Linked DNA regions of Homo sapiens. The protein of the gene in region 1 purifies or fractionates together with the protein of each later gene. This does not show direct contact. Each region holds a gene or a part of one and is shown in the gene's direction. Other genes may lie near its edges.

What was found.
Region 2: the proteins of SLC5A5 (region 1) and SLC19A2 purify together in Homo sapiens (affinity purification with mass spectrometry; 2 studies listed by BioGRID and IntAct, with this or other methods). This does not show direct contact.
Region 3: the proteins of SLC5A5 (region 1) and ATL3 purify together in Homo sapiens (affinity purification with mass spectrometry; 2 studies listed by BioGRID and IntAct, with this or other methods). This does not show direct contact.
Region 4: the proteins of SLC5A5 (region 1) and SFXN5 purify together in Homo sapiens (affinity purification with mass spectrometry; 2 studies listed by BioGRID and IntAct, with this or other methods). This does not show direct contact.

The regions. Positions count from the first base shown.
Region 1 is NC_000019.10:17,888,729-17,896,481, forward strand, and holds the end of SLC5A5 (sodium/iodide cotransporter), read left to right. Parts: intron 1-2,157; coding exon 2,158-2,273; intron 2,274-4,984; coding exon 4,985-5,149; 3' UTR 5,150-6,446; downstream 6,447-7,753. UniProt on the Homo sapiens protein: Sodium:iodide symporter that mediates the transport of iodide into the thyroid gland. Can also mediate the transport of chlorate, thiocynate, nitrate and selenocynate.
Region 2 is NC_000001.11:169,462,386-169,468,944, reverse strand, and holds the end of SLC19A2 (thiamine transporter 1), read left to right. Parts: intron 1-108; coding exon 109-301; intron 302-692; coding exon 693-834; intron 835-2,967; coding exon 2,968-3,096; 3' UTR 3,097-5,036; downstream 5,037-6,559. UniProt on the Homo sapiens protein: High-affinity transporter for the intake of thiamine. Mediates H(+)-dependent pyridoxine transport.
Region 3 is NC_000011.10:63,668,133-63,676,723, reverse strand, and holds the start of ATL3 (atlastin-3), read left to right. Parts: upstream 1-5,388; coding exon 5,389-5,434; intron 5,435-8,591. UniProt on the Homo sapiens protein: Atlastin-3 (ATL3) is a membrane-anchored GTPase that mediates the GTP-dependent fusion of endoplasmic reticulum (ER) membranes, maintaining the continuous ER network. It facilitates the formation of three-way junctions where ER tubules intersect.
Region 4 is NC_000002.12:72,998,225-73,006,247, reverse strand, and holds part of SFXN5 (sideroflexin-5), read left to right. Parts: intron 1-517; exon of another isoform or gene 518-1,857; intron 1,858-4,669; coding exon 4,670-4,723; intron 4,724-5,760; coding exon 5,761-5,817; intron 5,818-7,233; coding exon 7,234-7,299; intron 7,300-8,023. UniProt on the Homo sapiens protein: Mitochondrial amino-acid transporter. Transports citrate. Does not act as a serine transporter: not able to mediate transport of serine into mitochondria.

The DNA.
Region 1 (7,753 bases):
TTCAAGCGATTCTCATGTCACAGCCTCCCGAGTAGCTGGGATTACAAGTGTGTGCCGCCATGCTTGGCTAATTTTGCATTTTTAGTAGAGACGGAGTTTCGCCATGTGTCTCGAACTCCTGGGCTCAAGTGATCCGCCCACCTCGGCCTCGCAAAGTTCTGGGATTATAGGTGTGAGCCACTGCACCTGGGCTGTACCTATTTTTTTAAAAGGAAAAAAAAAGTTTGTGAGGAAAAAAGAAGTGTGTGTGTATATATACACATACATACACACTTTTATGTGTATATATACATAAAAGAAATTATGAATATATATAAAAATTATGACTATATATATACATAAAAGAAAGTGTATATATATATAGTTTCTTTTAAAGGGACGGGGTCGACTGGGCGTAGTGGCTCATGCCTGTTATCCCAGCACTTTGGGAGGCCGAGGCGGGTGGATCACCTGAGGTCAGGAGTTCAAGACCAGCCCGGCCAACATGGTGAAACCCCGTCTCTACTAAAAATACAAAAAAATTAGCTGGGCATGGTGGCAGGCGCCTGTAATGCCAGCTACTTGGGAGGCTGAGGTAAGGGAATCGCTTGATCCTGGGAGATGGAGGTTGCAGTGAGCCAAGATTGCGTCACTGCACTCCAGCCTGGGCAAGAGAGTGAGACTCCATCTAAAAGAAAGAAAGAAAGAAGGAAGGAAGGAAGGAAGGAAGGAAGGAAAGAGAAAGAGAGAGAGAGAGAAGGAGAGAAAGAGAGAGAGAAAGAAAAGAGACAGGTCTCACTGTTACCCAGACTGGAGTGCAGTGGCACAATCATGGCTCACTGCAACCTTGAACTCCTGAGCTGAAAGCAATCCTCCCACCTCATCCTCCCGAGTAGCTGAGACTACAGGTGCGCGCCAACGTGCCCGGCTCACATTTACACCCTTTAAAGCTATGTTGCTTTCTTGACAACCCTGCACCTCTCAGAGCTTGCCCTATTTTGCAGAGGCAGAAACGGAGGCATTGCCTGCAACTCCTCTCCCCAACAAGATTAAGTCCTCAGTAGAGGATATGGGTTGGGGCGGGCGGCGCTATCCCTGGTGCTGAAATATCTTCTAAAGCTGCCGGTGACTCCGCACTTGTTAGGGAATTCTAAATTCCACGGAAAAGTAGAAGGAGACAAAGAGGGGAAAGTCAGTAGTGATAACAGTACCTGCTCACACTTCTTGAGTCTCAGACTTCACAGTCATCAGGCCTTTATCGAGTCCTCCTCTGTGCTGGACGCTATTTTAGGCACTGGGGATGCAGCAGTGAATGGAACCGTGTGCTGGACCCTCCCAGCCATCCATTAATGTCTTTGTTTTGTTTTGTTTTGTTTTTTTGAGATGGAGTTTCACTCTGGTCGCCCAGGCTGGAGTGCAATGGTGCGATGTTGGCTCACTGCAACCTCTGACTCCCGGGTTCAAGCAATTCTCTTACCTCAGCCTCCCGAGTAGCTGGGATTACAAGCGCCCACCCCCACGCCTGGCTAATTTTTGTATTTTTAGTAGAAATGGGGTTTCGCCATGTTGGCCAGACTAGTCTCGAACTCCTGACGTCAAGTGATCCCCTGCCTTGGTCTTCCAAAGTGCTGGGACTACAGGCGTGAGCCACCGTGCCCAACCTCCAATGATGTTTTTGTTTTGTTTTGTTTTGTTTTGTTTTAGAAACAGGGTCTCACTCTGTCACCAAGCTGGAGTGCAGTGGCACAATGACGGCTCACTGCAGCCTCGACCTCTTGGGCTCAAGCAATCCTCCTGCCTCAGCCTCCCAAGTAGCTGAGACTAGAGGCACACACCACCATGCCTGGCTAATTTTTTAATATTTTGTAGAGATGGGTTCTTGCTATGTTGCCTAGGCTGGTCTCCAACTACTGGGCAACTCTAAGCAATCCTATTGCCTTAGACTCCCAAAGTGCAATTATGAGCCACCATACCTGGCCTCACTGATGTTTTATTACAACTTCACTGTGTAGATGAGGAAACTGAGGCTCAGAGGCTTGCCAGGGTCCCTTAGTGGGACTGGAGCCTGTTAGACTTCATAGACCAGGGATCTCCTTTCTCCTTCCCAGGACCTGGTCTCCAACCCCCATGACCCCTTCACTGAATGCCTGGATTTCTCCATTTCTCCCCGCCTCTCAGGCCCCACCAAGCGCAGCACCCTGGCCCCGGGATTGTTGTGGTGGGACCTCGCACGGCAGACAGCATCAGTGGCCCCCAAGGAAGAAGTGGCCATCCTGGATGACAACTTGGTCAAGGTCAGTCTTAGGCTGGGTTCCCAGATCTAGAGGCAGCCAAGTGACTTTAGGACGTGACCACAGCTCAGGGGAGGGACATGGTATATCAGCACCTTTCTCCATCGCTCATTATCTCCAGTCAAAAGACTCTATTGGGAGCTGATTCATCCTCAACAGTTTTTATCTCCCTTCACAAGGACTGAACAGAGTTTAATACTATTCCTTTTTGTTTGTTTGTTTTTTGAGACAGAGTCTCGCTCTGTTGCCCAGGCTGGAGTGCAGTGGTGCAATCTCGGCTCACTGCAACCTCCACATCCCGAGTTCAAGCGATTCTCCTGCCTCAGCCTCCTGAGTAGTTGCTACTACAGGCGCATGCCACCGCACCCAGCTAATTTTTATGTTTTTAGTAGAGATGGGGTTTCACCATGTTGCCCAGGCTGGTCTCGAACTCCTGACCTCAAATGATCCACCCACCTTAGACCCCCAAAGTGCTGGGATGACAGGCATGAGCCACCGAGCCCAGCCTCATCTTCAAGTTTTTGTTATCTCCCTTCATAAGGACTGAACAAAGTTGAATACTATTCCTTTTTGTCGTTATCTGTTTTTACAGTGACTTCCAATCTTTGGCAGGTGAAACTGGTGTGCTGTTAGGGTATTGATGTAAAGTCTCTTCTTAAAATAAAATTACTTAATTCAAAAGTGAGTCAACTTGGGGAAAAAATCTTACATAAGAAACACAACAGATGGTAAACCGATTTTGGCTAAAACCGCGTGGTTGCTTTGTGAATTCCCAGAGTTTGGAAAATGCTGTCCCTGGGGGACCTGATCCCATGCCTACCCCTGTTTTGGAATCCCTGTTCCATTCTCTCATTTATTGAGCACCTGCTGTGTACCCAGTCCTGCTCTGGGCTATGGTCTAAGACCCCCACCCCACCCTCATCTAGCAGGGGCAGGTGAAAACTAAAAAGAGAAACATGTAGGGTCTGTCTCAGTATGTGATAAGCATTCAAAAGATAATACAACCAGATGCTGTCAGGCCGGGCACGGTAGCTCACGCCTGTAATCCCAGCACTTTGGGAGGTTGAGGTGGATCGCTTGAGGCCAGGAGTTCAAGACCAGCCTGTCGAACATGGCAAAACCCTGTCTCTACTAAAAATACAAAAATTAGCCGGGCATGGTGGCGTGTGCCTGTAATCCCAGCTACTCAGTGGAATGAGGCAGAAGAATTGAACAATTGAACCCGGGAGGTAGAGGTTGTAGTGAGCTGAGATCGCGCCACTGCATTCCAGCCTGGGTGACAGAGCAAGACTTCGTCAAAAAGATAGGAAAGCAGGAAGGGAGGGAGGGAGGGAAAAGAAGGAAGGAAAGGAAAGAGCCAGGCGTGATGGCTCACCCCTGTAATCCCAGCACTTTGGGAGACTTAGGCAGGTGCATCACCTGAGGTCAGGAGTTCGAGACCACCCTGGCCAACATGGTGAAACCCCATCTCTACTAAAAATACAAAAAATTAGCCGGGTGTGGTGGTGCATGCCTATAATTCCAGCTATTCGGAAGGCTGAGGCAGGAGAATCGATTGAACTCAGGAGGTGGAGGTTGCAGAGAGCAGAGATTGTGCCATTGCACTCCAGCCTGGGCAACAACAGCCAGACACTGTCAGAAAGAAAGAAAAGACAGAGAGAGAGAGAGAGAGAGAGAGAGAGAGAGAGAGAGAGAGAGAGCAAGCTAAAAAGAAAAACGTGTAGGGTCTCAGCATGATAAATATTCAAAGGATAATAAAACCGGATGCTGTGATGGGGAGCAACTTTAGCCAGGGAAGTCAGGGGTGGCCTCTTGGGAGAGGTGACATTGATTGACCCTGAGTTAGGAGAAGAGGAACCAGCCACAGACAGGAACAGCTTTGACTGAGAAGGGGATTGGGAGGGGAGGGGTTTGCCTGAAGGTGTTTAAAGCTCCCTCCAGCTGCCCTAGAGAAGTGTTTATCTTTTCTTTCTTTCCTCTTTTCTTTTCCTTTCTCTTCTTTTCTTTTTTTTCTTTCTCTCTCTTTTTTTGTTCTTTATTATTTTATTTTTCTTTTTTGTTGTCTTTGTTTTATTTGTGTGTTTTTTTTCTTTTTTGTCTTTTTTTTTTTTCCTTTTTTTGAGATAGGGACTCACTCTATTGCCCAGGCTGGAGTGTAGTGGCATGACCATGGCTCACTGCAGCCCCAACCTCCATGGTCCGAGAAATTCTCCCATCTTTCAACCTCCTGAGTAGCTGGGATTATAGGCATGCACCACCGAGTCTGGTTAATTTTTTTATTTTTGGTAGAGATGGGGTTTTGCCATATTGGCCAGGCTGGTCTTAAACTCCTGGGCTCAAGTGATCTGCCCACCTTGGCCTCCCAAAGTGCTAGGATTACAGGGGTGAGCCACCGTGCCCGGCCAGAAATATTTATTTTCTTGAAGGTGAACAGGCAGAGAAGCAGAGAAAGGAGGGAGGAACTATAGCAGGCATCTGAGAAAGCGTTGATGGCCTGGGCTGTAGGTGACATGTGAGTGGGGAAGAGAAGCGCATGGAAATTTTGGAGGCAGAGCGGGCAGGACTGGCCCGTGCACTGAGCAAGGGGATAGTATGCAATTCTGTGCACGCCCCGTCCCGCCAGGTCATCAGTAGCCCATCTGGGAGATGAGCTGACACGGAACAGGGTGGGGACAGGGTCTCTGATGGGGTCTCTTTTTCCCACTTTTCCCCAGGGTCCTGAAGAACTCCCCACTGGAAACAAGAAGCCCCCTGGCTTCCTGCCCACCAATGAGGATCGTCTGTTTTTCTTGGGGCAGAAGGAGCTGGAGGGGGCTGGCTCTTGGACCCCCTGTGTTGGACATGATGGTGGTCGAGACCAGCAGGAGACAAACCTCTGAGGACAGGGCCAGCCGCGGGACTGACACCCTGGGATGGAACCTCAGGATGGGCCAAACCCAGACAACGGGCCCATGGCCTTGGGCTCTGATTGGCTGGATTGCCTTGTATGCAAATGAGTTCAGGACTACAATACCCTACCCTATGGGGAGGCCCTGCCTCCGGGAGGTCATTTTTTAAATCCAGCCCCTTGCTTCAACCGTCCCCAGTATTAGACGCTGCAGCCCTGACGGCTCCCCCCAAATAAGGCTGGGTTTTTCTCTCTCTCTTTTTTTTTTTTTTTTTTTTTTGAGACAGGGTCATGCTCTGTCACCCAGGCTGGAGTGCAGTGGTGTGATCTCGGCTCACTGCAACCTCTGCCTCCCAGGCTCAAGTGATTCTCCTGCCTCAGCCTCTTGAGTAGCTGGGATTGTAGGTGCCCACCACCATGCCCAGCCAACTTTTTGTATTTTTAGTAGAGACAGGGTTTCACCATGTTGGTCAGGCTGGTCTCGAACTCCTGACCTCAAGTGATCCACCTGCCTCGGCCTCCCAAAGTGCTGGGTTACAGGCGTAAGCTACCATGCCCAGCCTACCGTTTTTCTCAATCTATAATAGAAAGCCACCACGCCCAGGTAATTTTTGTAATTTTGTATTTTTGTAGAGACGGGGTTTTGCCATGTTGGCCAGGCTGGTCTCAAACTCCTGATCTCAGGTGATCCTCCTGCCTTGGCCTCCCAAAGGGCTGGGATTACAGGGGTGAGCCACCGCGCCCCACCTCTTTCTTATTTTCTTCCTGGGATTGGGGAGGGGATGATTCAGACCCCACATGGCCTCCAACCTTGGCCCACACACCTGCCATGGCTCCCATCATCCTGAGCATGCTAGCGTCCCCTCCTCACCTGACAATGGAGGCTCTCGAATTGGGTTGTGTCCCCCCAAAATTTATGTCTACCCAGAACCTCAGAACATGAGCTTACTTGGAAATAGGGTCTTTGCAGGTGTAACTGGTTAAATTAAAAGAGGTATTACTGGAGGAGGATGGATGAATCCAGTGACTGGTTCCTCATATGAAGTAGAGAAGAGATGCAGAGAAACACATGGGGAAGATGCCACGTGAAGACAGAGGCAGTGGTTGGATCAATGCATCTACGAGTCGGAGAACCCAAGGATTGCCAGCAACAACCAGAAATCAGGAGGGGGGCATGAGATGCATTATTTCTTAGAGCCTTTAGAGGGAACATGGCCCTACTGACACCTTGATGTCAGACTTCTGGCTGCTAGAACTGTCAGAGAATAAATTTCTGTTGTTTGATGCCACCAGGCCTATAGTGGTTTGTGACAGCAGCCACAGGAGCTCATACACCTTTTTTTTTTTTTTTTTTTTTTTTTTTTTTTTTAAGGCAGAGTCTCGCTCTGTCGCCCAGACTGGAGTGCAGTGGTGCGATCTTGGCTCACTGAAACCTCTGCCTCCCAGATTCTCCTTCCTCAGCCTCTGGAGGAGCTGGGATTACAGGCATGTGCCACCATTCCCGGCTGACTTTTGTATTTTTAGTAGAGACGGGGTTTCACCATGTCGGTCAGGCTGATCTCGAACTCCTGACCTCAAGTGATCTGCCTGCCTCAGCTTCCCAAAGTGCTGGGATTATAGGCGTGAGCCACTGCGCCCGGCCTCATACACACCTTCTGATCCCGCTTCTCTCCACCCCTTGGAGACCTGGTCCTCTGTGCCCGCTGTTGGGATTGGACACCTTTAGATTTGGACTTAAAACTGGCCATTACAACTTTAAAATCGATGACTGGACGGGTGTGGCGTCTCATGCCTGTAATCCCAGCACTTCGGGAGGCTGAGGCGGGCAGATCACTCGAGGTCAAGAGTTCAAGACCAGACTGGCCAACATGGTGAAACCCCATCTCTACTAAAAATACAAAAATTAGCCGGGTGTGGTGGCGGGCGCCTGTAGTCCCAGGTACTCGGGAGGCTGAGGCAGGAGAATCGCTTGAACCTGGGAGGCAGAGGTTGCAGTGAGATCACGCCACTGCATTCCAGCCTGAGTGACAGAGCAAGACTATGTCTCAAAAAAATATATATATATGTATATGTGTGTGTGTGTGTGTGTGTGTGTGTATATATATATATAAAATCAAATCAATGACTGAGCAACGTGGTAAGCAGATTTTCCACCTCTGTGTAGTCCTCACTCAAAACAGAGCCCAAATCTGAGATGGGAGGAGGTGCCCGGGGTAGGGATGGGCTAATGTTCCCCCAAGTGAGCAGAAGAAGCTTATCTGGCTGCAGTATAGAGATCCTTCCACGGCGTTATTCATTCCGTTTACTGCGGAGTAGTATTCCATTGTGCAAAAGGACCATAGTTTGTTATCTATACACCAGTTGATGTATGGGTTGTTTGCCACTTTTGGCTATGAGAAATAAAGTTGCTATGAACATTCATGTACGAGTCTTTGTATGGAGGCTGGGCACAGTGTCTCACGCCTGTAATTCCAACACTTTGGGAGACCAAGGCAGGAGGATTGCTCAAGACCAGGAGTTTGAGAACAGCCTGGGCAATATAACGAGACCCCATCTCTATAGAAAAATTTCTTTTTTTTTTTTTTTTTTTTTGTTT
Region 2 (6,559 bases), on another chromosome or scaffold:
TTTATAAGTTTGCAGATTTTAAAATTTAATAATCTAAGCTGAGTTTTTAATTTATTGCAACAGCATTTGTGTAGCAAAATAATTGGATTTTTTTTGTTTGTTCTGTAGGTGCTGTTGCTGTGTTTGCAGTTGGTTATATAAAAATATCCTGGTCAACTTGGGGAGAAATGACATTATCTCTCTTTTCTCTCCTGATTGCTGCTGCAGTGTATATCATGGACACTGTGGGTAACATTTGGGTGTGCTATGCATCCTATGTTGTCTTCAGAATCATCTACATGTTACTCATCACGATAGCAACGTATGTATTTTGGCTCATAGAAGCCTTAGGAAAAATTGTAACAGGATAAATTTTTTGGTTTCTTTACAAACCAAAATATTCAAGTTTCTAGTTAAATGAGGCAAATGGGAGGAAGCATTGTATTATATGTGCATTATCAGTTTTTCTCCTGAGGAAGCATTTAGGCAAGTTTTGTTTATTCCCATGTTTGTATGTTCCTACTGTTTTCAGATGTTTGCATGAGATTTATATCATTTAGTTGCAGAATGTTTTCATTTGGTTGGAAAGGCAATTGACAGTAGAAAGAAGGACTCTTCATGTTTAAAGATAAATGTTTACTTTTATTTAGAATAAATATTATAAGTACTCCAGAAGTAATTCTTATTTATTCACTCTTTTATTTTTTTTTAAGTTTTCAAATTGCTGCAAACCTCAGCATGGAACGCTATGCCCTAGTATTTGGTGTAAATACCTTCATTGCCCTGGCACTGCAGACGCTGCTCACTCTAATTGTGGTAGATGCCAGTGGCCTTGGATTAGAAATTACCACTCAGGTAAGATCTCTCCTTTGGCATCGAAGGTAGTATGTGTGACTTGATCAGGGTGACAGAAGTATATGTATGCTTAATGAAAACAAATCCAAACAATAGGGAACAGATGTAAAGTAAAAGCATACCCTCCTTCCTTCATTCAACATCTTCTCCCCTATCCTTAGTTCTTTTCTCCTGGGAGGGTGTTGGGATTGTCAGGTCTTAGAACATTCCCGAGTGTAACTCATCAGCCCAATGGGGCTGTTTCAGCTGAGAGGTAATATTGATTCCTTACAGACCAAGACCTTCTGCTTCCTCATCCATTATTTCCCTCTATACTTAAATCTATGCTTGGAATACTGTATCCCATGTTTGAGATTCCCTGCTTCATCTCACAACTCTTTAAGTCTCCTCCCTTCTTTATTTAAAACACCCCTCACCCAAATACCACGGTAATGCCTTGCTGCTGATGAACAACATTATGATTTGTAACTTATGACTATTGAGAAACTTGCACCAACACCCAACAACAATGTGAATACTTTTTACGTTCAGGAATTGTATAGTTGTATATGCCTTCATGCATTGTGAGTTTTAAGTATATCTTGTTTTGTACTTTGGTAAAATGGGCAACTGAATGAATCAAGAAGTATTTACTCCCACCCCCATCCCAACCCAAATGATTTCTTCCCAACATATTAGCCGTAATTAACTTTGTTTTTACTGAAGCGATCTAAGAGAGAAATAGTAATAATAGACAATGTGCATTGAGTGCCTCTACGTGTCAAGTGCTTTATATAGGATTTGTAGGGTTGCTGTATTAGACATGAAGAAGATGAGTCTGAGAGATGTTAAGTGACTTGTCCATACCATCACTAGTAGTGTTCCAGAGCTTAGAGTTAAACCAACATCTAACCCCAAAACTTATTTCAGGATGGAAAGTAGGAGAGAAACTTAAGTGCTTGCCATCCTCCCTGTATAAGGGAGAGTTCCCAGGACTATTACAGTTGAGGGAAACATGGCTGTCATTGGAAGTGGAAATTTGTCAGCAGATTCTTATAGAAATGGTGGATTTAAACACGTGGAATAATAGGATTTTATGGGTGGTGCTGAAACCCTAACTGCCATGATTGATTAATGGCTTCCTGCAGAAGTGTAGCCAACATTGAAAGAAACTGGCTCAGTGATTTAAGGCCATACTCTCATTGTACTTTTGAACCAGTTTGTAAGTATTTAGTATGTTATTTTAAGAAGATGATGATGATGATGATGTTAATAAACCATATAGTCACATTAAAATTTCGCTTAGGGCATCATCCGCCGCAAACTAACACAGGAACAGAAAACCAAACACTGCATGTTCTCACTCATAAGTCGGTGTTGGACAATGAGAACACATGGACACAGGGAGGGGAACAACACACATTGGGGCCTGTTGGGGGGTGGGAGGCAAGGGAAGGGAGAGCATTAGGACAAATACCTAATGTATGCAGGGCTTAAAACCTAGATGATGGGTTGATAGGTGCAGCAAACCACCATGGCACACGTATACCTATATAACAAATCTGCACATTCTGCACATGTACCCCAGAACTTAAAAAAAAAAAATTGTCTTAGGGAAGAATTCTTACATTAAGTAATCCTGTAATGGAATATAGTTGACCTGCCGCTGCCCTCTTCTGGGGAAAAATAGAGAAGTTCTTGATCTTCAGAATTTGGCCTATTTGTACCCACCTATCAGCTTGAAGGCAGAGACCAGGACTGAATTATAACAATAACAGCAACAACAATAAAAGTAATACTAACAGCATTAGCATTGTGCTAATAAGCATTTATGATCTCACTGATGGGTACCAACATCGCTGTAAAGTGAGAACTACTATGAATTCCATTTTGTAAGTGAAGAAGGGCTCAGAGATGAAGTATCTCAATCAAGTTCACGCAGCTTGTAAGGGATGAAGTCAGGATTCACACTCAGGCAGTCAGGCTTTATTTAGTACCACCGTGCTGTGATGCTGCTTTGTGTCTTCAGGGTCTGGCACGTGGTGTAAGTATGCAATATTTTTTGAGGCTTTATGGACAAATTCTGAATATACTTTATTATAGAGTAATCCTCTTGTCATTGATAATTCAATAAACTGCTTTTCCCCCTTCTAGTTTTTGATCTATGCCAGTTATTTTGCACTCATCGCTGTGGTTTTCCTGGCCAGTGGTGCAGTCAGTGTTATGAAGAAATGTAGAAAGCTGGAAGATCCACAATCAAGTTCTCAAGTAACCACTTCATAATATACTGCTGAAGGGCTTCTTCTTATAGCAAGAACTCTGCACAGCAACTGCCTGGATGTGTTTGATTTTTTAAAGCGTAGACATATATTTATGAATGTGCATTTCTTGACTTCACAGCAGCCACTTGACTAATACCTTGTGTTCCGGGAATAACATGATACTATTCAGAGGAGCCAGAAGTAAAGTTTATTTCATGGATTATTTATGAGAGCTAATTTAAGGATGACTTTTTTTCTGATTCAAAAGTGAACTTGATTTTAAAAACCAGTCAAGAGCAATCAAAGCAGCACATGGTGTTGTATACTTCATTAGCAAGTGAGTTTGGTGTTTTATAGGTCACATATGTCTGTATCTACTTAGCCAGATGCTTGGCCTGGTGGGACCAGGGCTCCACAGAGGCCACAAAATGTTGCAAGTCATGATGGATGGAAATATGTTCTAACAGCATCTGCCTCTATTCAATTTAATTCTTATTTCTGTGTTACTCATGTACATTGGTCTTTCTACATAGTTATTCTATCACTGGCAATATTTGTTCTGGTTTAGTGTTCTGTATTTTAAGGTGTACGTATCATTTCTAATTTTAAGTTATTTTAAAAAAATTCATCATATGAATGTTCTTGGTTCCCATTGTGACGATTATTTATTTCTGTAAAATTTGTTTAGAAGTACGTTTTTGCATTATTCATATGCTTCCCAGAGAAGCTCATTTAGTTAGAAAATAAGGCAAGTTTTGAAGCCTGCTAAATGAAGAGACTTAAGAAAGCTTAAGGTACGCTTGCTTGTCTTTAAATCTTCAATATGAAGGACTATTAATTCCAAGATTAAAAGTTCATATATAGGCTAAAGATGTAACTAGGCCATTTGTATTTGTATTCCCTTTTATTTCCAAAATAAAATGAAAAATCTTTTTTTAATAATTTCATCCCTATTTATAGTTTTTATATTAATTTGTTTTTCTTATCCAAGTAAAGATGTCAATAGGAATTGCATTAGTCCAAGGCCTTTTTCATAAACTGAGCCTCTTTTCAATTATTTCAATGGGACAGGAACTAGGATAGATGTGATTCCTGCATTTTTTTACCTTAAATCTGCCTTTGTTTCTAAAGGTAGATCATCTTGAATATTTGCTTAAAATTGCTAGTGATTTCATTACCAAGTTACTTGAAAAAATGTTCTATATGCATTTAATTCTGAAATCAGTCTACCAAGGGGCTGCTAGTATATGTCAGACATGAAAACTATTTTAAAGCTGACTTTGTTGCCTTATCTTGAAAAGAATCTAGATAGGTGCTTTTAACTGGGGTATTAACTTTTTTAGAATGACACAGCTGAACAGTGTTAATAATAGTGTGTCAAGATTGCAAAGTCGACATACTCATTTGGTTTAAGCAGGAATCCTAGAAGCAAATGGATGGGGATAAGAATAGGTCATTTTCTATTCACCATCCTTTACTATTAAGGGAAAGGAAAAGAACACTAGCTAAGGAAGGGAAAGGGAAGTGATATCATAAAAGTAGCAACCTTCATTTTACATTCTGTCTGTTTTTCTTTTTTTGCTTTGTTTTGTTTGTGCTAATTTGGGAATTGTGTACTCCGAAACAAGTAGAAAAGTGCTGTTTGAGGGATTTTATTAAATCTTTTTTTAATGGAATGTGGTACAAATTGTTCATGTTACCAAAGCAATATTTCCCTGGAATTTAATTCAAAGTTTGTGGCATACAACCTGAGCCTTTTCTTATATAAGACAAGAATATGTTCACATCTTGGTATGTGGCCATATTTATAGAATGCTGAACTCAATGTGCAAGTTGTACTGTATGCAGTTTTGTAAATAAGTGAAAATAATTTGTTGTACTTTTTATTCAATTCTGTATAGATTATAAAATTATTTTTATTAAATAAATATTTTACAGTATATTTTCTCTTTTTAATCAAAATTGTTTTAAATTTATCTTCTATTTCAGTAGGAGCTTTAGATTATATCTTTAAATATTTTAATAATTTATCCTAGGACAAATTTCATATTAAGTCTTCCCCTGGTCTAACTTGCCTAGTTAACCTTTTGTTATCTTTTTAATTATTCCATTGCTTTGTGATTTTTACCTTTGACTCTTCCCCCTTATTTCAGATGTTTTCCCCCTTTTTTTTGGCACCCCGTTGCACTGTTTTTTTTTTTTTTTTTGGTTTTCATGTTGGCACTGCTCTTATCTCTTTTTAAAGCATTCTTCCTTAAAAAAAAAAAAAGACACTCTCTTTGATGTTAACTGAATTTTTACAATAAAGGAAATTAAAGCAAGAGCAGAAAATACCACCTTGTTCTGAAACTTCATAGCCTCTTTGTTCCACCTCAAATTATTCTGATACCCAGGGAGGAATCTTCTTGCCATGAGTTGAGAATCATTTGTCCATTATATCCCAGAAACCTAATCAGTATTTTCTTACAGTATCCAAATGAGTACCATTTTTTAATATACCATTTCAAAATCTACTTAAGGCATTGATTTCGCTGCTTATCACCAAAGTCCTGGAAATTTTTCATGCAAAAATAAATTTTTTTTTTTTGAGACAGTCTTGCACTGTTGCCCAGGCTGCAGTGCAGTGGCAATCTCGGCTCACTGCAAACTCTGCCTCCTGGGTTCACGCCATTCTCCTGCCTCAGCTTCCCGAGTAGCTGGGACTACAGGCACCTGCCACCACGCCCGGCTAATGTTTTGTATTTTTAGTAGAGATGGGGTTTCACGGTGTTAGCCAGGATGGTCTCGATCTCCTGACCTCGTGATCCGCCCGCCTCGGCCTCCCAAAGTGCTGGGATTACAGGCATGAGCCACTGCGCCCGGCCAAAAATTTTTTTAAATATAGTTTTATAGCCCTATAGTTTCATTGCCTGTGTCTTATTACCTTTCAGATTGGAAGCCTTCAGACCAGGGACCATGTCTTATTTTTGTTTTTTGTTGCAAAACAGATTCTGGTGTCATGTGAACATTTAATTATATAAATGGTATGTGATGGACTCAGCCACCTGCCAATACAATAGTTAAATGCTCATCTTTTTAAATTTTTATTTTAAAGAGTCAGTGTTCCTAGGCTGGAGTACAGTGGCACAACCACAGCTCACTGCAGCCTTGAACTCCTGGGCTCAAGCAGTCTTCCTGCCTCAGCCTCCTAAGTAGCTGGAAATCACAGGCGGGTACCAACACACCCAGTGAATTGTTATTTTGTAGAGATGGGGTCTCACTATGTTGTCCAGGCTGGTCTTGAACTCCTGACCTCAAGCGATCCTCCTACCTTTGTCTCCCAAATTATTGGGATTACAGGCATGAGCCACCTTGCCCAGCCTTATTCTTACTGTATTTTTAAATGCAGCCTACAAAATTGGAGTTGTCATTTTTAAAAAGCACATCAGACTGCGGTGGCTCACGGAATCTCAGCACTTTGGGAGGCCAAGGCGGGTGGGTCACCT
Region 3 (8,591 bases), on another chromosome or scaffold:
TCTCTTATTCTTTGGCCCTGTCTTTATAGGACTGGTATTTTTGTGTGCATGTGTGAGTACGTAGTAAGGACTGGTATTTTTTTTTTTTGAGACGGAGTTTTGCTCTTGTTGTCCAGGCTGGAGTGCAATGGTGCGATCTTGGCTCACCGCAACCTCTGCCTCCCGGATTCAAGCGATTCTCCTGCCTCAGCCTCTGGAGTAGCTGGGACTACAGGCATGTGCCACCACACCCGGCTAATTTTGTATTTTTAGTAGAGACAGGGTTTCTCCATGTTGGTCAGGCTGGTCTCGAACTCCTGACCTCAGGTGATCCACCCGCCTCGGCCTCCCAAAGTGCTGAGATTACAGGCATGAGCCACCACTCCTGGCCAGGACTGGTATCTTATACAGATAATTTCTTTATTTTCGAGACGGAGTTTTGCTCTTGTCGCCCACACTGGAGGGCAATGGCATGATCTCAGCTCACTGCAACCTCCGCCTCCTTAGTTCAAGCAATTCTCCTGCATCAGCCTCCCCACTGGCTAGGATTACAGGTGCACGCTACCAAGCCCAGCTAATTTTTATATTTTTACTAGAGATGGGGTTTCACCATGTTGGCCAGGCTGTTCTTGAACTCCTGACCTCTGGTGATTGGCCCACCTCAGCCTCCCAAAGTGCTGGGATTACAGGCTTGAGCCACTGTGCTCGGCCTATACAGATAATTTCCCAGTTTAACTTCTAAGCCATCTAATTACCCTATATTTTCTTGACTTTTAGAAAAAATTATATATTTTATTTTATTTTTAAATTTTTAAAAATTATATATTTTAAATTAAGACATTTGAAGGGCGGGCGCAGTGGCTCACACCTGTAATCCCAGCACTTTGGGAGGCCGAGGTAGCCAGACTGCCTGAGGTCAGGAGTTGGAGAACAGCCTGCCTAACATCGTGAAACCCTGTCTCTACTAAAAATACAAAAAAATTAGCCGAGCCTGGTGGCACATGCCTGTTGTCCCAGCTACTCAGAAGGCTGAGGCAGGAGACTCGCTTCAATCTGGGAAGCAAAAGTTGCAGTGAGCCAAGATTGCGCCACTGCACTCCAGCCTGGGCGACAGAGTGAAACTCTATCTCAAAAAAAAATTTGATATGTAGTCACAGATCATTCATATATACGTACACAAATATTCAGGAATATATATATTGTAAAGTTTTATCACTAACTCCCTCCACTCCTCTACACACATATAGGTAGCTACTATTAGGATTTTCTCTTTTTTTTTTTTTTGAAATGGAGTCTTGCTGTGTCGCCCAGGCTGGAGTGCAATGCTGCGATCTCAGCTCACTGCAAGCTCTGCCTCCTGGGTTCACGCCATTCTCCTGCCTCAGCCTCCCAAGTAGCTGGGACTACAGGCACCCGCCACCACGCCCAGCTAATTTTTTGTATTTTTAGTAGAGACGGGGTTTCACCGTGTTAGCCAGGATGGTCTCGATCTCCTGACCTCGTGATCTGCCTGCCTCGGCCTCCCAAAATGCTGGGATTACAGGCGTGAGCCACCGAGCCTGGCCACTATTAGGATATTCCTGTGGCAAACATAAGCAAAGGTGAATATAGCAAATCTGTATCCTCATCCCCACTGCCTTTTTTTTTTTTTTTTTAGTGGAGTCGCTCTGTCACCCAGGCTGGAATGCAGTGGTGGCATGATCTTGGCTCACTGCAACCTCTGCCTCCTGGGTTCAAGCCATACTCCTGCCTCGGCCTCCCAGGTTGCTGGGATTACAAGCATACACCACCATGCCTGGCTAATTTTTGTATTTTTAGTAGAGACAGTGTTTCACTGTGTTGGCCAGGCTGGTCTTGAACTTGTGACCTTAAGTGATCCATATGCTTCAGACTCCCAAAGTGCTGGGATTACAGGCATGAGCCACTGTGCGCTGTCCCCCGCCCCCACTTTCTTTCTTTCTTTCTTTCTTTTTTTGGAGGTAGGGTTTGCTCTGTTGCTCAGGCTGTAATGCAGTGCTACAATTATGGCTCACTGCATCCTCTACCTCCTAGGCTCAAGCAATCCTCCCACCTCAGCCTCCCAAGTAGCTGGGACCACAGGTACCCCACCATACCTGGCTAATTTATTTGTTTATTTTTGGTAGACATGGGATCTCCCTATGTTGCCCAGACCGTTTTGTTTGTTTGTTTGTTTGTGACAGAATTTTGCTCTTATTGCCCAGGCTGGATGCAATGGCAGGATCTCAGCTCGCTGCAACCACTGCCTCCCGGGTTCAAGAGATTCTCCTGCCTCAGCCTCTGGAGTAGCTGGGATTACAGGTGCCTGCCACCACTCTTGGCTAAGTTTTTGTATTTTTAGTACAGACGGGATTTCACCATGTTGGCCAGGCTGGTCTCCAACTCCTGACCTCAGGTGATCCACCTGCCTCGGCCTCCCAAAGTGTAGGGATTACAGGTGTGAGCCACTGCCCCCAGCCCCCAGACTGGTCTTGAACTCCTGGGCTCAAGAGATCCTCCCAGTTAGACCGCTGTGCTGTTGGCTGAAATACCAATAATGAAGTAGCTGACAAGGTCTTAAGCTTTCAGTATGTTACCATGTTGAGGACCTAATATTCAACTTTATAAGACCCTATCAAGTGGGGTTGGCTATTTTCTTTTTACAAATGAAGATGCCAAATCATTACCCCATTTTACACACATGCAAAATAAGGTATGGAAATTTAAATGATGCCCAGGGATGTAGTATTCCAACTTGTCCCTTCCAAGTTGCTTAAATAATGATCCTGCACATAGAGGGCAGAAAGCTGAACTGTGTCCCAGTACAGTCACAGTGAATGATATTTCCTCAGCTGTCTATCCCACAGGACTGCGAGTCTCTGGAGGATAGGAATGTGTCTTATGCAGCATTATGGCCTATCACGGTACCTGGCATATAACAAATGACCTATTTTTGGAAAGCTTTGGAACCTGAGTCATGGTGGATGCCATTGCAGAAAACAATTTTGCTATTTTTGTGTTTCATAAACCACTTGAGTATCTTGAATATTTATGACTTTATTTTGCTTTTCCAGAATGAATATGCTGATTACTAATTTTGATCACTAACCACGCAGTCATCATTTCCAAACACACAGCTCACTTAGCCTAGAACAACCGTGTGGGTCTTTAAATCATTTTGCAGATGATGAAATGGATTCAGAGAGGTTAAGTAGCTCGCCCAAGGTTGCATAGCTAGTGAACATCAGAGCCAGGTAAGTCTGACCCCAAAGCCAGTAGTCTGTCCACTCAAATATGTCTACATGTCACCTACTTCTGGAAAACCTCAAGGGAAGCTCAACCTCTGATCATAGCACATAACTCAATTCAGAGTGAGATAGCTGAAGGCAGGCTGTAACCAGTATTGTCAATATTTGGCACTTTCAATGTCCAGTGTTTTGATGACCCTGGATATTTGAGAAGGAAATAACACAAAACATGTTTCTCATTTACAGGGGTTGCTTTCTAAGTTGTGACTAATCCTTAAGTCCACCTATAATTTGTACTGTTTTGTTCCAAATGCCAAAAGCTTCTACAAGGGCTACAATGCTGATGTGCTAACATTGACCTTGATACCTTGATGATGTAATATTGAGACATATATCAGTATTTGCTGGTCACTTCCTGAGAAGTTGGATTTCAGTGAATCTCTGGGGAGCCCTTAAAATAAACTAGGGTATTTTGTTCAATAGTAAAAGTTAGGTATTTAATATTAAAGGAACCAGAAAGTGAGTGAGCAGTGTTAGATGTAACATATATCTTCTTCATCCATTAATTCAATAGATATTTGAGTCTCTATTATCTGCCAGCAGTATTTAGGGACTGGGGATATACAAGTAAACAAAACAGACAAAAATTCCTATCTGTTTGGAACTTACATTCAGTGGGAAGAGACAAACACAATGAAAGGTAAAACATAAGTCAGATAGTAGCAGGAAGTCTTTTTTTTTTTTTTTTTTTTTGAGATGGAGTCTTGCTCTTTCTCCCAGGCTGGAGTGCAGTGGTGCCATCTCCACTCAATGCAACCTCTCCTGCCTCAGCCTCCCGAGTAGCTGGGATTACAGGCGCCTGCCACCACGCCTGGTTAATTTTTTGTATTTTTAGAAGAGATGGGGTTTCACCATGTTAGCCTGGCTGGTCTTGAACTCCCGACCTCAGGTGATCCAACCACCTCAGCCTCCCAAAGTGCTGGGATTACAGGCGTGAGCCACCGCGCCTGGCCAAGTGGTATGAAGTCTTTTGGAGAAAAGTAATGCAGGGAAAAGGAGCAGAGAATGCTGGGATGTGCGTGCAAGTTTTTTTTTTTTTTTTTTGATGGAGTTTTGCTCCTGTTGCCTACGCTGGTGTGCAATGGTGCGATCTCGGCTCACTGCAACCTCCGCCTCCTGGGTTCAAGCGATTCTCCTGTTCAGCCTCTGGACTAGCTGGGATTACAAGCGTGCGCCACTACGCCTGGCTAATTTCGTATTTTTAGTAGAGACGGGGATTCTCCATGTTGGTCAGGCTGGTCTCGAACGCCCACGACCTCAGGTGATCCACCCGCCTCGGCCTCCCAAAGTGCTGGGATTACAGGCGTGAGGCACGGCGCCCGGCCTGGACTTCTTACATTAGCTATCAGAGCGGTGATGGTGCGCATCAGCCATGGCCAGGGACAGGAATATAGGGAGATGATAATAAAGGTGGTAATGAAGTCACGGCCACCTGCCCTTATGAAGTCAAAATCATTAAAGACCCAGTGACGTTCATGCCATCCAGGGTTGAGGCCTCTCTTCTGCCCACCTGTGGTCCCAGGCCTAGTTAAACACCAAAGCTGTCTCTCACACTGGTGGTTCCAGGATAAAGCCTCGGCCTGGGGCCTGGTCTGCACGTTAGGCGCCGGCCGCAGCTCGCAGGAGGACCCGAGCCAGCCCGCCCCTTCCCGCACAGCCTGCTGGGAGTTGTAGTTCAGTCGTCGGAGAACCACGCCAAGCCCCGCCCCAGATGAGTGCGCAGTATGAGGACCGCTGGCCGGGACCCAGTGAGCGCGGGACTACAATTCCCAAAGGACGGTAGCACTCAGCGCCCCGCCAACAGGTACCCGGCGGCTCGCTTCGCGCACACGCGGCAGGCGGTGGCGGGATTCTGCCGCGTGCGCTTTCCCGCCCCGCCTCGCCTAGCCTCGTCCTGCGCTCGCCACGCCTCGGGCTGTCCGTTGGGCCACGCAGACCGCGCTGCGCTCGCTCCGTCGCGGCTCCGCGTGCCCCACCTTCTGGCTAGTTTTTTCTAGAGCCCAGGCTCCGCCCGTTTCCCGCTTCCAGGGCCCGGTTCGTTCCCGCCCGCACCCGTCCCTCTCCTCTGCACCCCTGCTGCTTCTGCTTTGAAGGCGGAGGCTCCATGTTGTCCCCTCAGCGAGTGGCAGCAGCTGCCTCAAGAGGAGCAGGTGAGGCGCCGATTTTCCCTGGATCGCCCCGCGGCCACCCCCGCCGCCTTCCCTGCTGTAGTTCTGAAAAGAACCCCCGCCCGCGCCGCCGCCCTTCCTCGTCCCGGGGCTGGGACCGCGCGTCCCTCGCCGGGGTCACTCGGTTTCCGAATTTGTGGTGGGGGGGCCCCTCTTCGGGCCCAGCTGGTCCAGCGAGGGCGGCACCTTCCTTACTTTTCGGCCGGGGGCGGCCGCCGTCAGGGCTCGGGCCCTGGTGCCGCCGGGGGCTCCTCCAGCTCCTCCCCTGGGCTGCAGCTGCCCCTGGGCGGCCCAAGGGCCGGTGGTCCCCGTGGGCGGCGTCCGGAGCTTCGGCCCCGCCGAGCCCCGCCCTGGGCAGAGCCGGGCGCCCCAGGGCGCTGCCCCTCCGTGCCCGGGCACTCAGCGCCCTCTCTGGTCGGAGAATCGGGGCCTGGATGGAGCGGGAAGGTGAATGCTGGTTTATTTGGCCTTTCTGGAAGTGCTGGAAGGCTGCGAAGTGTCTTGGAAGCTTTATTTTTATCCTAACGACCTTGAGGCACTGACCACAAGTATTAGGAAAGTTGGTTTTCAACCCATACTTAACGCTGTAAAGAATTGGTCTAAATTGGTTTTTCGTAAGTTAGTGCTTTTGGCACAGTACGTTGTTCTTTTGCTTTCCCGAAGACATGAAACATAGTGAAAGTATTAAAAACCAAATAAGGAGTCACCGTGTATTCACGGATCTGATTTAGTCTGTCATTTTACTTGGCTTTATTCTAGTGTAATGTGTGTGCTGTTGAAATGACCGTTTCACTTGCGAAATCGAAGAGCAAAAAGGAAAAGAACAGTGAAGAATTTTTAAATGAGTCTCAGTTCTCAAATTCAAATACGAAGCAATGGAACGTTTTGTCAGTCTTAGAATAACGGACCAAAAATGTACGATTTCACATATTGGCTTACTTTTGGAGATTTAAGAAGCATAACCTACGGAGTACTAATCCCTGTCAAGAATTTAGCATTGCAACATAGGTACTGAAATTCAAATTAGTGCTTTTTTTTTTCCATTCCCACAGAGATTAGCTTGTACTCCAGAAATTCCTGTTGCCGCTCTAACACCTGTAAACACTTGGCTGAGAAGGATCTCAGTATTGCAGTAGTCCAGCACATTGTTTTATTATTATTTTTTGAGACGGAGTTTTGCTCTGGTCACCCAGGCTGGAGTGCAATGGCGCGATCTCGGCTGATTGCAACCTCCGCTTCCTGGGTTCAAGCAATTCTTCTGCCTCATCCTCCCGGGTAGCTGGGATTACAGGCGCTCTCCACCATGCGCGGCTATTTTTTTTTGAGACGGAGTTTCGTTTTTGCTACCTAAACTGGAGTACAGTGGCGCAGTCTCGGCTCACTGCACCCTCCGCCTCCTGGGTTCAAATGATTCTCCTGCGTCAGCCTCCCGAGTAGCTGGGATTATAGACATCCGCCACCAGGCCCAGCTAATTTTTTGTATTTTTAGTAGAAACGGGGTTTCACCACGTTGGCCAGGCTGGTCTCGAACTCCTGACCTCAGGTGAACCACCCTCCTCTCCTCGGCCTCCCAAGTACTGGGATTACAGGCGTGAGCCATCGTGCCCGGCCCATTATTGTATTAGCTACAGTTTACTACCTCATTGTAGTAGAATTCATGAAATAGAAGTAACGGGATAGATGTGGTGTTGTGTACTAGCTTAATTTTCTTTTTCTTTTCTTTTTTTTTCTTCTGGTGAGAAGGAGTCTTGCTCTCTCGCCCAGGGTGGAGTGCAATGGCGCGATCTCTGCTCACTGCAACCTCCGCCTCCCAGGTTCAAGCGATTCTCCTGCCGCAGCCTCCCAGGTAGCTGGGATTACAGGCGCCCTCCACCGCGCCTGGGTAATTTTTGTATTTTTAGTAGAGACGGGGTTTCACCATGTTTGCCAGGCTGATCTTGAACTCCTGACCTCAGGTGATCCTCCTAGCTCGGCCTCCCAAAGTGCTGGGATTGCAGGTGTGAGCCACGGCGCCTGGCCCAGTTGCGTGGTATTTCGATTGTCAGAACACCTTAGATATATTTCACAGCTGAAGTATGTTAACAGATTAGAAGACAGGCTTTCCTGGTATAGTAGGCGCTAATTAGGAAATCCTTACTTGGCCGGGAGCTGTGGTTTACTCCTGTAATCCCAGCATTTTGGGAGGCTGAGGCAGGTGGATCACCTGAGGTCAGGAGTTCAAGACCAGCCTGGCCAACATGGTGAGACGCCCCCCCCCACCCAAAAAAAAATTAAAAAAAAGTTAGCCAACGTGGTGTTGCAGGCCTGTAGTTCTGGCTACTCAGGAGGCTGAGGTGAGAGGATGGAGTGAGCCCAGGAAGTTGGCTGCAGTGAGCCTTTTTTTTTTTCTTTTTTCTGCAGTGAGCCTTGTTCTTGCCACTGCACTCCAGCCTAGGCAACAGAGTGAGACCTTGTCTCAAAAAAAAAAAAAAAAAAAAAAAAGGAACACAGCTAATTCAAACCTTTGGTGGCATTCTTATTCTTAGGAAAGAGATACAAAAGTGTTACTGAGCTCATTCCATTAAAAAGGTTTTTTTCCTCCACTTGTGATATAGCCTGGCATCATTTTCAGATTCAGCCCTCTCCTTGGATTTTCTGAATCTTCAGTACCATTTAGTCATAGATAATTTTTGTAAACCTATGAAGCATTACACAATCCTTAGTCAACAACAAAAAATATGGTTTTGTTCAGCCTTCTGTGCTATGGCGAAAAGATTTTCTACAACAGACAAATATAAAATTTGCCCAGTATTCTGGTTAATTAGATTTAAATAGTATTTTCACTGAAACAGCCTTAAGCGTATTGCAGTGTATCTACTGGCACAATCACTGCCTTAAGACAAAACGGTATATAAAAGCACCCACCCCTCCACCACCAGAAGGAACCACACCCAGCAGTTCTAGAGTTGGCTAAGGTCTTAGTATACTTACTCTTGCCTGTGATGATGTTTTCTCTGGCTTTGTCAGTTAGAAACCTTAAAGACTGCCAGCAAGAACAAGGCATGAAAATGGTATGCCTCTGTTTTGGGTGTGTTGCTCTTGCCCTTTGGAGAATATGATATTTTATAAGGAGACTGGAAAACTCAGGTCATAACTTTAC
Region 4 (8,023 bases), on another chromosome or scaffold:
GAGGGTGACCTGACCTGGGATGGACTGTACCCTCCTGTCTCTCCTGTCTGTCCTCCTCCTTGGACCAGGGATTTGTCAGGGATGTCTTCTCGTGGCAACCTCAGATGCTCAGCAGGGCAAGCAGGAAGGCATGAGGCCTCTGAGCCAGGGCTCAGAACTGACACGCTGCCACGTCCTCCCACGTGCTGTCAGTCAGAGCAAGTTAGATGACCAAGCAGAGCCAAAAAGTGAGGAAATAAATTCCTTCTGTGATGAGGCCGTGGCAAGGGTATGGGTGCAGGGAGTGGGAAATAATCTGGACCAAAGACTCAATCTCCCACCCCCACCCCCTGCAATTAGGACTTAATAAAAGGAGTCAGGAGTGCATTGTCCCAGTCCAGCAGAGATCTTTCCCTGGCCAATAATTATCTAATAATTAGGAGTGTTATTCCACCCTGGGGTGTGGGCCCAGCTTTGTGCTGAATGCCATGGCGGGGGCATCAGAAGAAGAGGGAAAAGCCCCAATTTTGCCTTCCAGAGCTCTGTTCTCTGAGGGATAAGACTTGTGTTCCCGAGATGGAGATGAGACGATGTTCAGTGGTGTAATGCTGACTATGGAGCTCAGAGAAAGAAACCAGCAAAGGCCAGGAAAGAACTACATGGGAGGAGAAGAATGGCACTGGCAACCGGCATCCAGGGAGCGCTTGCTGCAGGCTGCATGCTGAGGCGAATTTCCTCCACACCTTACTTCCTCTCATAACCATCCTGAGAGGTACTGGGATTGTCCTTCACTTAACAGGTGAAGAAACAGAGGCACAAAGAGCTCCAGTGACTTGCCTGTGGTCACATAGCTGGTAAATGCTGGCACCAGCATTTGACAACCAGAGCCTGAGCGTTAATCACTAGGTCCATGGTAGGACACCCAAAATGAAGGGGAGCAGCAAAGGTACAGACGGATGTGCAGAGAGCACAGCTGCCAGGGGGCTGGAGCGGCAGAGGGGACTTCAGCCATGTTATGAACTATAAATGGGAGCAGAGATAGGATGTGTGATTTGGCCAAGGTCCTGCAGCGCGATAGGGTGGAGGCTGGGCTAGAAATCATAGCTGTTGGCTCCTGTTTCCCTCTCCTTCCACTTTCCTTGGTACCAGCCACATTCTGGGCGCTCTCCACCCGTCTGCGTGGCCACGCCTGAATCGTTTCCCTCTTGGAAGAGGTGCAATCCACTGGCATTGAAGCTGGGTGGACTGGCTCCCTCTCTCTATCCATCTCTTTCTTCCTTTCCCCTGCCATGTTCTGGAAAGGGCAGCGGGAGGGAATGTGGGCAGGTTGCACCAGAGATATACATCTGAGAGCTGAAGGGAACATTTATTTTTAATTTAGACTTAAAAAGAAAAAAGGAAGTTATAAAATATCTGCTCTTGCTCCTGGGATTGTGCAGATGGTGCTGCGTTTTGCCTAATAGGGAATTGGGCTGGCATCCTCGTGCTTTTGGTCCCCGCCTGACTGTAAGGACCTGGAGGGCAGGATCCCTGCTTCCCTGCCTCAGCCTCACATGGCCCCCTAAGGCTCCATTTGGCCGATGCAGCTCGGTGTTCCTGTCTTCTAACCTCACCCTCTCCACACTCCCTCTGGTCTCCCAGACCTCCTCTGCAGTCAGACCAGTCTCTCTGCTGTCTCGGCTGTCCCTGCTCCTGTGTCGGCGCCCCCTCGGCTCACTCCTACCTCCGCCTTCGTTAGATAGCCGGGACACACTCACCCCTCCCTTCCTAAACTCCTGTTTGGATGTTAAAATTTATCAACTTTACACATAACCAAATACCTCATTAAACCATCTTGTCATTTTCAAGCCTCGGTGTTATAAAGGATGTCATCCTCCATTTTCTTGTCTGGTTTTTGTTTTTATTGTGGTTAAGGAGTGTGTGTGTGTGTGTGTGTGTGTGTGTGTGTGTGTGCGCGCGCACTCATTCCTCTCCTCTGGCTTTCTCCATTGGGAGCAGCAAGGAACTTGGTACGTAGAAGCAGCTCCTCATAAATGGATGCAGAGTGCTGATTGGATCTCCCCTCTCTCTGCGCTCAAGGGGATGAGCTGGAGAAGGAGTACCCTAAAATCAGAGTCCGGGCCCCCAAGCCAGGAACCAGGAGACCTGATTCTCTAGCTTGCTATGAAGCTATGGACAGATTACTGAATTTCTCTAAGCCTCAGTTGTCCCGTTTGCAAAATATCAAAAGTAATCTCTGCTTTGATCCCCAGGGTTAGTATGAGGATTATGATAAGTGAAATGCGTGGCAAAATCAAATCAGTCAATCCATCTCTTTAAGAAAGAATGAGGAGACTCATAGCAGTCAGAGGTGCCAGCATGGACTCCAGACCCATGTTAGGGTAGGAGGTTGGGATGCAAAGTGGGGATTGTCTAACAAAGTAAAAAGCTTGCTGGTCACAGAGCCATGGGCAGTGTGTATGTGTGTGGTACATAGCCCAAATACTAGTTTGGTTTGTTCTGGAAAAGACTTGATGTCACTTTTAAAAATGCTTGCCACTAAAGATAAATCAAGTGAAGATGAAAATGAGACAAAGGGAAGGTTAGGGAAGGGAAGATAAAATGAAGCCAGAAGTGAGGTTTGGGCACAGAATCCATGCAGTGTGGGTCTGTACACTTGGCAGATGGGGCTGTGGAGAGCTGGCCTGAGCTTCTGACGGTGCAAAGAGACTCAGTTGAATGGCTCAGTGTCTGCAAGGCACATGCACACCAGTTATTCAGAGGCACAGTTCCTGACCCTGAGACTGGAAAATATTTCCCCCAAGAGGATTATAAAGGGAACCCTGTGGTGTCACGGGCAGTGTCCTGGACAGCAGTTGTCTGGTAAATGCAGTGAGTGCTATTGGGCTGTATCTTACGATGTTCCTGGTGGTCCAAGTACAGTTCGAGGGGTAAGTGGGGATTCAGAGGAGAAGACAGTGTAGTCCATAAGACACCGTGTTCAGTAGACTCCAGATCAGGGGATGACGTGCTGGGCTCCAAACAGTGAACAGCCTTATTAACTTCCTCCGGTGGTAGAAGGCAGTCAGGCATGCATACGTGTACACATAGGAGCACATGTACTCTTCACCCACCCCCCTGTCCCATCCCCACCCCCGCTAGGCTCAGCTCCCTCCCTCTGGTCTGGCTTCTAACTGGGGGCCCCAACTACGAGGAGGTCCTCAGTTTCCTGGGATACTCCTTAGCAGATGGGATCCCATTACAGAAAAGACCGTCTCTGTTGACTTGACACCTACTACCCAGAATTTGGAAGTAGAATTTTAAACTGAGGTCAGCCCCTTCACTTTCATAGTTTAAGAAAGTTAGTGCCCCAAAGGGGATCATTTTCTGCCAGAGATCACATGGGGATGGAGCTGAATCTAAGACCCAGGTTCCCCTGATTCTCACTCTAATTCCCTAAGCTGCCACTGCAAAGAAAAAAAAAATCAAGTTGGGATCTCATTCTGGGGGAAAAATCTCATAATTCCTCGTTGGAGCTATGGAATAGCTTTATATTATATAATTTTATTCAAACTGATATGAGCCAATAAATATAGATTGTGTGTGTGTGTGTTAGCTGTTTTAAAACATTTTAATGTTTAAAACATGATTTACTAATGCTGCTGGGGATGTCTAGAATTTGATTTACTGCATATTATTGAGTGTTTATACTTGTTCCTTACAGAAATTCTTGCCAAAGAGCCATTTTATCTACAGGAATAATAAATAAGTCAATATGTGGATGGTTGTGCACATTTTTCCCATATGCAGTGGGACTTGGTAGATGTTACTTTGCACACAAACACTCAGAAGGTAAACTGGAGAGATGCACATGGATCCCTGAAGTCCAAGGCTTGGCCAGTGTCAAAATCAGACCATTCATCTTGACTTAAACCAAAAACACGGTCAGCAAGTCTAGGTCTTAGGTGATATTTGGGCTTTGGGAATAATGGATCTACATGTTCCCATACCTAGCCATATGTGTATATGTGTATATTTGTTCATTTCTTCATTCATTCCTTTCTTCACTCATTCAACAAATATTAGAAATCTATGTTTCATTCAGTTGCTTAAACCTGGTATAGGTTTTTGCTTCATGGAAATTCACAGATAACAGATACAAATTCCCCCAACTTGTATTTACAAAGCACTTAAGGCCTTTGAAATGATTTTTGTTTAATCCTCGCAAAAATCCTACGGGAAGGCTAGGGTGAGCAGTCAGGTAACCTGAGTGGAAACGAAGGTATTCCTTTTGTTTGCTTGTTTTTATTGCCCCCCTAATTGTGGAAATAATACATGTCTGTTGTTTAAAAGAATACAGAAATATTTAAGATTGTGCAAAAGTAATCTGCAACCCAACCTCCAGAGACATCCACACTACAGGTTTTTTCATGCTTGAAGATAATGTGTGTATGCATGTGTTTGTGTATATCGTTATATATAAAATGATTTTTCTTTAAATAAATAAGATTATGCTGTAATATAATTCTGCAACTTGGTTTTTTCCCATCACACAGCCTCTCCCTCAATGAACCTCAGTTTGTATGTACACGGCATACCACATCAGTTTGTACAGATCCAGCTCACTCATTTGTGGTAGCGTATTTTTTCTTTGCAAAAGCATAGGATGTTTCTTCTGCCTTTTTCAGCATTTCTTCTCTCTTGCTCATAGGTAGTCGGTCTTCTCTTGCCCAACCAGACACTGGCATCCACTGTCTTCTGGCAGGTAACAGTCTCGCAGCAAACAGGGCTCCTGAAGGAAGGGCCCACACAGGTGCTGGTTAAGAACTCCCTGCTGTGGTGTCTCCTGCCCCGTCCAGACCCCGTGTAGGGTCAGTCCACCCCAACACCACCCCTAGCCCAGAAGCCACTGAAGGAAAACCAGGACTTTGGCCCTGCTGAGCAGGTCTCCAGCAGCCCAGCATGTCTCAATCCACCATGTGTCACTCTAACCTTTGGACAGAGGTCATGAGGGCTGCGTGCCCCTGCCTGGAACATGCTGGCTTGTCAGTGGGGTGGCCCCCACTCTGCCCCTTGGCTGCTCATCCCAAGGCCAGTGACCCTGAGGCCCATAGCCTCATTTTGACATCAGCCTCCCCCACATCTGCTGAGGAAGCTAAATCCACCCCTAACCTGAGGTTGTGAAGTGCATCACAGACCCTGGTCCCTGCTCTTGGAGACAGTCTGGGTTGTGATGCCATGAAAACTGAGGATATCTCTGTGTTTGTGTGTGCAGAGAAAGACGGGCAGGAAGGAAAACCTGTCTGTCTTCTAGGAGAAAATGTCAGTCTTCCCTGAACTAAACTCCTGCCGGCCTCTGTGTCTGGGAACTGGAGGTGCAGGATACTGGACTGGGAGATTTTTGAAAGAATTGTAGGGCTGTCAGTCATTCTAGGCCAACTTTTGTCCAGCAGGTAATATAATAAAGATGGTGTGACAAAGGCAGTGGGGTCTGCAGGGGCAGTGAATGCCATCATTCCAAGAGAGGTGACTGTCTCAGGATCAGGTGGACTACTGGGGTGCGCAGGACCCCATTCAGGAACCGAGAGACTTCCCGAGAGGCAGGGCTTCCAGTGCTAACACCAGCACAGCCCTGGGCAAACCAGGACGGTCAGTCATGCTGACCGGCAGCATGGGCGGCACCATGTGAGCTGGAGACCGCATGCTGTGCCTTTCTGGGGATGTGTGGCCTCCTGGGGTCCAGGCCTGGCTTCCAGGGAGGTGACCACTCCTTCCCTGACTTCTCTCATCATTGCCTTTCAGTGGCTGAACCAGAGCCACAATGCCTGTGTCAACTATGCAAACCGCAATGCGACCAAGGTGAGCATCACTGCCCTCTCCCCAGTGGTGGGGTTCAGGCTAGGGAGGCCCAGTCATCCTCCCTACAGCGTGACATGCCACCATCAGTGGCTGCCTCTTGGTTAAGCATGGCCCTCCTCTAGATATCTTATTTAAAATGCCAGCCCTTCAGGTGGGTGGCCGACTCAGACATGACTCAGCTGAGGTCAGCTGCAGTTTCTGGGCCAGGAGCCCTCTGGGGAGGGGCTGTTTACATGAAGTGAAGAAGGCCCATTAAATGGGAGCAGTGCAAGGGATGAGTTCGGCTGGCTTTCAGATTCTTCTTGGGTAGCTCTTACATTTGGGTTTTGGATCATGATGGTATCAGCTACTTGGGGGCAAAATTCCCATAAAGCTTCCTCCAAAATTTCTGGAAGCTGCCTTAGCGCTCCCAGGTCCCGACTGCTGGCCACAAGCTGAAGGGCTGCTCCTGAGTGGGGAGGGTCCAGGGCTGGTAACTCCCCCCCAGAGCCCCTGCACTCCTTGGAGAGCTTGTGGTGGAGGCCCAGTCACCCTTCTGTTGTCCAGGAAGGGCTGCTGGGCCCCTGCTTTGCTGGCAAGGCCACCTCTCCCCAACTTCAATTCAAAGGCAAAGAAGGCAGGATGCATCTAAGTCCCCTTTGGGGGCCTGTCAGTTTGGGGTAGAGGAGAGTCCTAACATTTGCTCACCTTGGGGGAGAGGAGGGGAATAGGAGCTGGCCTGGGCCATAGGAATTGAGAGGCCTGATATGCTGTGGCTGCCCCCTGACATCTAAACCTCCACCCCAAGTCTCTCTCATAGGCTTCACATATGGCCATCTCTGCTTGGATGACTCCCTTTATCTTAAACCAGACACTTCTAGACCTGCAGTTGTAGCACAGGGCAAGTTCCTTAGCTTTTTCTTAATTGTCTGTGTTGGAACTTGGGGTATATTATTCTCTAGAGATATTGGGCAGCTATCATCTGTTGACATGGGAGCCCAGCTGTTCCATGGGCTGGCAAGGCCTGTGAGAGCCTTGACACTGGCATTTCCACCTAGAAAGCGCTCCAGATGCCAAATGGCCCCCTTGAAACATTTAGCCTCTAAACTGAAGACTGCTTGCCCCAGCCTTCAATGGTCCATGTTAGCCTTGCTGTTCTCCACCTCCACCCAGCACTGTCTGCCAGTGACCTTTCTAGAACAGGGCAGGAGTGAAGTGGGCCCTTCAGTATCTCCCTGGATACTGGTGATTTATATTTCTGCATTGGGAACTGAGCTGAGGGTGGCCTGATCCCTTTGAGTCCTGAGGGGCCTCTTCCTTCTACCCACTTTCCAGGCTGGTGGGCAGGATGCTTCTTGCTGGCTGGGACAGCTTACAAGGGGAAGTATGGGAGCTTTGGGCACCCAGCAGGCCTGAAATTCTGCCTCTGTTTTCCAGCCTTCACCTGCATCCAAGTTCATCCAGGGATACCTGGGAGCTGTCATCAGCGCCGTCTCCATTGCTGTGAGTACTCCCTCCCCTGCTCCTTCTTGGCTCTGCTGCTCTGGGGCCACCCCGCTCAGCATTGCAGGTGGATGCTTGTCTGAGGGCCAGGCCAGGCAAGGATTTGGGAGACAGGTTTCTGTGGGTGGAGGAGTCAGGACAGGCTTTCCAAGCCGAGAAGAGGCTCCAGTAGACAGAGCACAACCTGGTGCTCCCTGTAATGGAGAGCAGGTGGGGAGGTGAGGTTGTGCCTGGGGGCACTGAGGCAGGACATCTGTCTTGAGTGGGGCTGCGGTTGCCCAGCACTCTGCTCGGAAGAGCTGCTCCTCATGCTCGGTAACGTGGCTGGAGCGAGCGGGGTGGGGGGATGCCTCTGAATGACTCTGCAAGGCCTGCCCATGTGCCTGCTCCCCTGAGCTCTTGCTCAGCTGCCGGGGCACTGCTTTTCCCTCTCTATGGCCTTACTGGTGTCACACGTCCAGCTCTTCCTGAAGACCTGTCAGTGCCCGAAGCCAGGGGCGTTAGGCTCACTCTGAGTCTCCACAGTACTTTGAGGCCAGAGCAGCTACTCAGTAGGGGAGGTTCAGAGACTGAGCGTGAGGGTACGGCAGGTGTGGCTCCCTGCTTCCCAGAGGAGGCCAGGGGCAAGTGACACAGTCAGGGCCCTGGGCCAGAGCCAGAGTGGACGCTCAAGCTGCCAGGACCTTCTGCATGCTTGTCCCACCCCTGAGCCCGCCCCTGTACC